2 linked regions of the Homo sapiens genome follow. The protein of the gene in region 2 purifies or fractionates together with the protein of the main gene of each other region. This does not show direct contact. Each region holds a gene or a part of one and is shown on either strand. Other genes may lie near its edges.

Region 1 (3,651 bases), on a different chromosome or scaffold from region 2:
GCCTTAGCCTCCTGAGTAGCTGAGATTACAGGCGCCCGCCACAACGCCTGGCTAATTTTTTGTACTTTTAGTAGAGATGGGGTTTCACCGTGTTGGCCAGGCTGGTCTCGAACTTCTGACCTCAGGTGATCCACCCGCCTCGGCCTCCCAAAGTGCTGGGATTACAGGCGTTAGCCACGGCGCCCGGCCAAGAATTTTCATATGATAGGATGAGGCATGACTCTTTCAAGTATTAACAACGCTGCAGAGGTGAGTTGGCAGCACAGTTGCTCCCAGTGAGACATTGGCTCTTTAGGGGTTTTTTGTATTTAAATTGAACTGCACAAAATGAAGCGGGCCCTTGCCAAGAAGTCACTGGTGCTTGCTCCATTCACCAGTGGGGGACCATTCACTGCTTTGGTCTACAGAACCTTGGCACAGCCTAGTTCCTCCCAGCAGCCAGCCCCCATCAGTCTAAAAATTAACAGTTAGTGTTTGCCTCCTAGGATACGGGAACAGTTTCCAGGAAGCGAGATGGAAAAATACGCTCTCTTCACTTACGAATCTCTTAAGAAAACCAAATGCCGAGAGTTTGTGCCTTCCCGAGATGAAATAGAAGCTCTGATCCACAGGCAGGAAATGACATCCACGGTCTATTGCCATGGCGGCGGCTCCTGCAAGATCACCATCAACTCCCACACCACCGCTGGGGAGGTGAGGAGAGGCAGCTGCTGCTTGTTCTGTTAGATGCCTTTGCTGCAGATACACCTGCGTCAGGAACATTGTGCAGCATTAGAGTGGCTGTCCTGCACAGTTGCAGTTTGCTTAGTACAGCTCTCAATACTAAGGAAATGCATGTAACCCAGAAGCAACCACACGAATATAGAGATAAAAATATATATATTGAGTGGAAACACAGAGATAAAGTACCTGAGACATAATCTTGCTAATCTGAGAAGCAGCTGAGTGTCTAGCAGAGCTGCAGACCTGGCTCAGGTCCAGCCACTTTGATGAGGGTTTATTGCAGTGCTTCTGCAACAAAGTGTTTGTTTGCACGTGACTAGCTAGATGAATATCAGATGAACACATTTTCTTTTTAAAATTTGAACTTACTATTATAAAACCAGTTGGCCAAAAGGGTGGTAATCCAATAACCACCACCCCGACCCCCACCCCCCAAGGCTTCTTATGGAAAAAAAAAAAACGTCATCTGGAGTCTCTGTTGTTCCTTGGAGTTCATAAATTTATCAGCCAAAAGACAGGACTGAAGCTTTTCACCCGCTTTTCCTGTTAATATAGGTTTGCAAGAAATCAGCCCAGCATCTGCCTCTACCGATGGGCAAAATACCCTGAGTTATTTTCAGCAAGAAAGAGATAAACCTAATCTCAAGAGAACAAAGGGAAAATAGTACTTTTGAAATTCTGGGATGACCACACGGGTAACATTTTTAGGAGGCTGGAGACGCCCTTGTGCCAGCAGCTCCCTCTGGGATCAGGTGATGGCACGTTCTGGGAACACGTGTTGGGGCCGCAGCCTGTGGAACTGAAGTCCCCCTGGTGTGTCTTCCAGGTGGTGGAGAAGCTGATCCGAGGCCTGGCCATGGAGGACAGCAGGAACATGTTTGCTTTGTTTGAATACAACGGCCACGTCGACAAAGCCATTGAAAGTCGAACCGTCGTAGCTGATGTCTTAGCCAAGTTTGAAAAGTAGGTTCCTTTTCCCTACTGTGTCAGAAGAGCAAATAAGAGAAATTGCAGAGCAGGGTTCAGGGTTTGAGCTTCCCATTCCATTTGTGGCTTCACGCTGTATTGGAGTTAGTTTTATTTTACCTGTGTTGATGCCTGTTTAACTTTGCATATCCGCTATTTTTCTCGATTCCTAGATAAAGCTACGGTCTTACGTGATGTAACTTGTCAGTGGTTTTTTACCCCATTCCTTTTCTCAGTTCCATGTTGGACCCGTCTGGGTATTTCTTGATTTTTTAGGTTTCCAGTTGTCATTAGCTTTGAAATTGGGCTGATTGACTGAAGCCAGCTTATAAACTCTTTAAACTATGTGTTATGTCTACAATATAAAATGGACCTACTTTTTTTTTTTTTTGAGATGGAGTCTTGCTCTGTTGCCCAGGCTGAAGTGCAGTGGCGCAACCTTGGCTCACTGCAACTTCTGCCTTCTGGGTTCAAGCAGTTCTCCTGCCTCAGACTCCCGAGTAGCTGGGATTACAGGCATGTACTACCACGCCCAGCTAATTTTTGTATTTTTAGTACAGATGGGGTTTGGCCATGTTGGTCAGGCTAGTCCCAAACTCCTGACCTCAGGTGATCCGCCCACCTGGGCCTCCCAAAGTGCTGGGATTACAGGCGTGAGCCACTGCACCTGGCCTGTAGACCTACGCTATTTGATCTGTGACTTCATATCCTCGAAGTAGCGCGAAGGTATTCCTGCTTAGTATAAACACAGCCCTCATACAAGAGTATTCACATCAATTTTTATAAATGTTATCATAATGTATCTGAGGCTTGGTAAAGGTAATAAAGAAACAGGCTTTTGTTTCTTTTCTTCCCGTGGACTCAGCATAATGCTTAGCTGGTACTAATTCGAATGCGGCTCTCTGAAAACACTTGTTAGCTGGTTAAACTAGGGGCTGCCTGTTTGTTTTCTTAAAGCAAAATCAGGATGAAAGTACGTTTTTTCACTCTGTTTATTCCTCTATCCCCATCTCTATCCACTGTTTTCTGGGCCCGGACAGAATGTCTGTGTCCTTAGAATACACCATGTAAAGTCAGGTCCCTGCGGGTCACTGAAGGCCCTTCTCGTTCATATTCTGAGCCTCTCTTGACTCCTCTCTGTAGGCTGGCTGCCACATCCGAGGTTGGGGACCTGCCATGGAAATTCTACTTCAAACTTTACTGCTTCCTGGACACAGACAACGTGCCAAAAGACAGTGTGGAGTTTGCATTTATGTTTGAACAGGTAAAAGGAATAGTTAGAAACAGATTTCTTTGCCGGCAAGCAAGGGTGAAACCTGTTAATACTTAGCCTTGTAAGTTAACTGGTACTTAGAAATGAGGCACACCTGTGGATTTCCCAGCAAAGACAAGACCAGCTGCTCTTTCATTCGTTTGTAGAATGAAACCTGCTACACATTTTATTTGAACCTCCGTTCCAGGGACTGTTCTAGTTGACAGGAGAGAGAGCACAAGGAATAAAATATGTGACGTGTGTTAGATGGTATCTGTGCTAGGGAGAAAATTAAATTTAAAGCAGTGAGCCAGGGGTGAGGGTACAGTTTTAGCCAGGGCAGTCAGGGAAGGTGAGTTTGAGAGAAACCCTCATGAAGTGAGGGAGCAAGCGACGTGGGCATCCCATGGCATGGCAGTGCGTTGACCGGAAAGCTGTTGACTGTCTCCTTTCAGGCCCACGAAGCGGTTATCCATGGCCACCATCCAGCCCCGGAAGAAAACCTCCAGGTTCTTGCTGCCCTGCGACTCCAGTATCTGCAGGGGGATTATACTCTGCACGCTGCCATCCCACCTCTCGAAGAGGTTTATTCCCTGCAGAGACTCAAGGCCCGCATCAGCCAGTCAACCAAAACCTTCACCCCTTGTGAACGGCTGGAGAAGAGGCGGACGAGCTTCCTAGAGGGGACCCTGAGGCGGAGCTTCCGGACA
Region 2 (3,751 bases):
TGAGGCAGGAGGATCCCTTGAGCCTAGGAGGTCAAGGCTGCAGTGAGCCATGGTTGCAACACTGCACTGCAGCCTGGGCGACAGAGACCCTGACTCCAAAAAAAAAAAAAAAAAAAAAAAAAAGGCACAAAACCCCAATAAATAGAATTTCCTTCTCTGCATAATGCTGCTATGAACATGGTACAAATAGCTGTTTTCATTTCTTTGGGGTATATATCCAGAAGTGGAATTGCTGGATTATGTGGTAATTATGTTTAATTTTTTGAGGAACCACTCTACGGTTTTCCACAGCAGCCACACCATTTTACATTCCCGTCAGCGATGCACAAAGGGTTCCAATTTCTCCGCATCTTTGCCAACACTTATTTTCTTTTTTTCCTCTTCTTCCTCCTTCTCCCCCCTTGAAACTTTTTGTTTTCTTCTCGTTTTTGTAGAGAACAGGGTCTCCTTATGTTGTCCAGTCAAGTCTGCCAACTCCTGGGCTCAGGCTATCCTCCTGTTTCTGCCTCCCTAAGTGCTGGGATTTTAGGCTGAAGCCACTGCGCCCAACTCCCTGCTTCTTCAACTGCCATCCTAATGAATGTTAAGTGGTATCCCACAGTGGTTTTGATTTGCGTTTCCCTAGTGATTAACTATGGGAAGCAGAAGTGAATGAGACAGAATTGTGATCTTGTCAGAAAAATCGTCTTGGAAAAGCCAACGTCCAACAGAAATGGTTAGAACAGGGGTCGCTGGCTTCCATCCAGACAGTATCCCTGACCCTTGTTGGGGCAATGTCACAGAGGCTCCTGCTGAGCAGGGAGGTCTGGATTCCACACTCTTCTGCCACTGCCCAGCTCTGGACCTAAGCTTTCTATGGGTGTCAAGAGGACAAGCAGCCGTGCCCATTTGTCTCGCTGCTTGTTTTTTTGGGTGTCAGATGCGCCAGCAGGAGGGACAGTGTGCGGGAAGGTGCTGGTCTGAGGCTGGTCCTGCCAAAGCCCCGCAGGCTCACTCCCTGGTCGTGCGGAGGTGGCTGGTGCTCGCTGGTCTCCTCAGCACCCGCAGGCCGGGCCCGGGGGCCAGGCAGTTGTCCTCTGTGGAGCCTTATCGGGGCCCACAGGCCCTGCTGCCTTGACCCCACCCGGGCCCCAAAACTCGGCCTGGGGACTGCACAAGGCGGGGCTACGCGGGGCAGGGCCCGTCTGCTGGGGGAGTGCGCTGGGCGGCGGCGGGAGGGCAGGGTCCCTGGGCTCCGACAGCCCCTCCGGCGGAGGTCAATCACAATGAAACCGTGTCCAGCGGACCCGGCAGGGGCTCGCCGCAGTCTACCTGGCCACCGTGAAGCCATGACCTGGCGCCCGAAGCTGCCGGCCGGGGTGTACTCCGCGCGGGACCCTGGGCCTCCGCAGGCCCCGGCGGGGTCGCCCCGAGGCGGGCCTGGCGAGTCCAATCGCCCTGCCCGCAGGGGACCCGCCCCTCATGGGTCCCGCCAATCGCAGGGTACGTTGCTCGGCAGTGCTGCGCGGCTTGGCCTATGGGACGGCGCGTTGTTGGGCTGCAGCGCCGCAGGCCGCACCCAGGTCGGGCGGTGGGGGCGAGCGGAGGGGCTGAGGGGCGGAGAGGCCTGGCGGGCCGCTGCTGCGGGCCAGGGGACGGGGGCGGAGCCGGAGCCGGAGCCGACGGGCGGTGGCCGCACTGGGACCCCGGAATCCCGCGCGCTGCCCACGATTCGCTTCTGAGGTGAGGCTAGCTAGCGGGGGCGGCGGGGGCCCGGTTCGGGCTGAGGCGGCGGCGGGGGCGCGGGGAACTGGGCCGCGGTTGCGGCGGGCGGGGGCCGCGGGGCCTGCGGCGGCCCGGGCAGCCTCGGGGGCGGGGAGGCCGCTGCGGCGCCGAGGGCGTCTTGGAGGGGTCCCCGCGGGGCCTTCGGCCTGGGCCGAGCCGGGGAGCGAGGGCGCCGCAGATCTTTCATCGGGATAGGACCCCGGGGACTAGGCTTTTCCCGGGCCGCTCGTTCCTGGCCGGCTTGTGGGCTGCAGGGGTGGGGGCGGAGGAGGACGACCCTGGCTGGACGCTGGTCAGCATCCTGCTTGTGAGACCGGTTCCGCGGTCCGCAGCGCTGGTGGCTGCAAGGTTTGTGTACGGACGCATCTGTCGGCTCTCGTATTTAAAAACGACGGCTTCTGCCAAAAGAGAAAAGCCATATCTGCCGACGGACGCTCGAGAGATAATCGTGGAACTTTATCAGCGATGGGGCTGTTGGTCACCTTTGCCCTCCCTCTCTTTTCTTTTTTCTTAATCTTTTATTTTCGTTTTTTGGGAGATGTCAGAGGGCCTTTCCCTGTTAGGATGACTTTTATCTTTGCTCTTGTAATGGCTCAAGATAGTTGGGAGGTAATTTGCATTCACTTTATGCATACCCACCTTGAAAAACGTATTTTGGTTCGCCTGAAACTGTTGTTGGTTTGAGCATAATTTATGTTTAGAAAGACAAAAAGCAATTGTCATATCTCCAAAGACCAAAGACATAGCTGATAGCTGTATGCATTACTGGTAAGTTAAAGAAAGATTTTTTGTGTGAAAAATTGACTGAGATCTTAATGGGGATAGGAAATAGAATGCTGATAGGTCGACTGTGTCTATGAGTAGAGGCGCCTAGTGAAAACAAGCTTGGAGTGGATGAGTAGGAGTTCAACAGGCACCAGAGAGAGGAGGGCATTTCAGGCAGAGGGTGTGAATTGTATGAAAGTGAGTTTGTAAACTTTGGAGCCTTGAATGGACAAAGGCCCGCGATGATACCTTTTTTTTTTGAGACGGAGTCTCGCTCTGTCGCCAGGCTGGAGTACAGTGGCGCGATCTCCAGTCACTGCAATCTCCGCCTCCCAGGTTCAAGCAATTCTCCTACCTCAGCCTCCCGAGTAGCTGGGACTACAGGCGCGCGCCACCACGCCCAGCTAATTTTTGTATTTTTAGTAGAGACGGGGTTTCACCATGTTGGCCAGGATGGTCTCAGTCTCTTGACCTCGTGATCCGTCCGCCTAGGCCTCCAAAAGTGCTGGGATTACAGGCGTGAGCCACCGCGCCTGGCCTACGTTAAAATTTTAATATACTCCTTTGATTTTGACAGTGGAGAAAACTAGAATAGTAAAGTTGTCTTTTCAGGAAGTGGATGATTTGGGCAGTCAAAACTGCTTTTCAGAGTTTCGATGTGGTTTACAATGGTATGGACAGCTGGTATGATTTGTTAGTTTTCTACTTGTGGTGTCTTTAGGTTTTAAAGTTTCGGAGAGTCGCTGAGTGATGTGAGTCTAAACTCTAGCCAGTCCCCGAATTGTGAGATAGTTTTCCTTCTAAAATATACTTCGTACAAGCTGGTCATTTTTCCCCTTAATTCTTTTGATGTTATCTGATATACTGAGAAGGTTTTGTTTGGTGTTCAGTTTTGTGTTACTGATTTTGCCATAAAAACTGTTTATTTACATGATTTTTAGTTTTTAGTTCTTATAGTCTTTGAATTGAATAAGAAAAGTAAATACTGAAATGCTTTGAAAGATAACAAAATATTTACTTATTGCTTGAAACTTAGAGTTAGATTGACTGCCCTTCCTTTCTTTCCTTCCATGTTTACCTCTTAACATATACACATATGTAGAGAGAATAGTATAAACCCCTTTTCTCAACCAGTTTCAACAGTCAATCTTGCTTCATCATATCCCCGCAGTCCTAGATATCCTTTAACCGTTAAATAGTTCAATATGTATATCTTAAAGAC

The links. Proteins that work in one complex are often made in the same cells at the same time.
Region 1: the proteins of ADD1 (region 2) and MYO10 purify together in Homo sapiens (affinity purification with western blotting; one study listed by BioGRID). This does not show direct contact.

Annotation. Positions count from the first base shown.
Region 1 is NC_000005.10:16,670,724-16,674,374, reverse strand, and holds part of MYO10 (unconventional myosin-X), read left to right. Parts: intron 1-485; coding exon 486-693; intron 694-1,549; coding exon 1,550-1,686; intron 1,687-2,832; coding exon 2,833-2,953; intron 2,954-3,396; coding exon 3,397-3,651. UniProt on the Homo sapiens protein: Myosins are actin-based motor molecules with ATPase activity. Unconventional myosins serve in intracellular movements. MYO10 binds to actin filaments and actin bundles and functions as a plus end-directed motor.
Region 2 is NC_000004.12:2,842,303-2,846,053, forward strand, and holds the start of ADD1 (alpha-adducin), read left to right. Parts: upstream 1-1,541; 5' UTR 1,542-1,722; intron 1,723-1,847; exon of another isoform or gene 1,848-2,532; intron 2,533-3,751. UniProt on the Homo sapiens protein: Membrane-cytoskeleton-associated protein that promotes the assembly of the spectrin-actin network. Binds to calmodulin.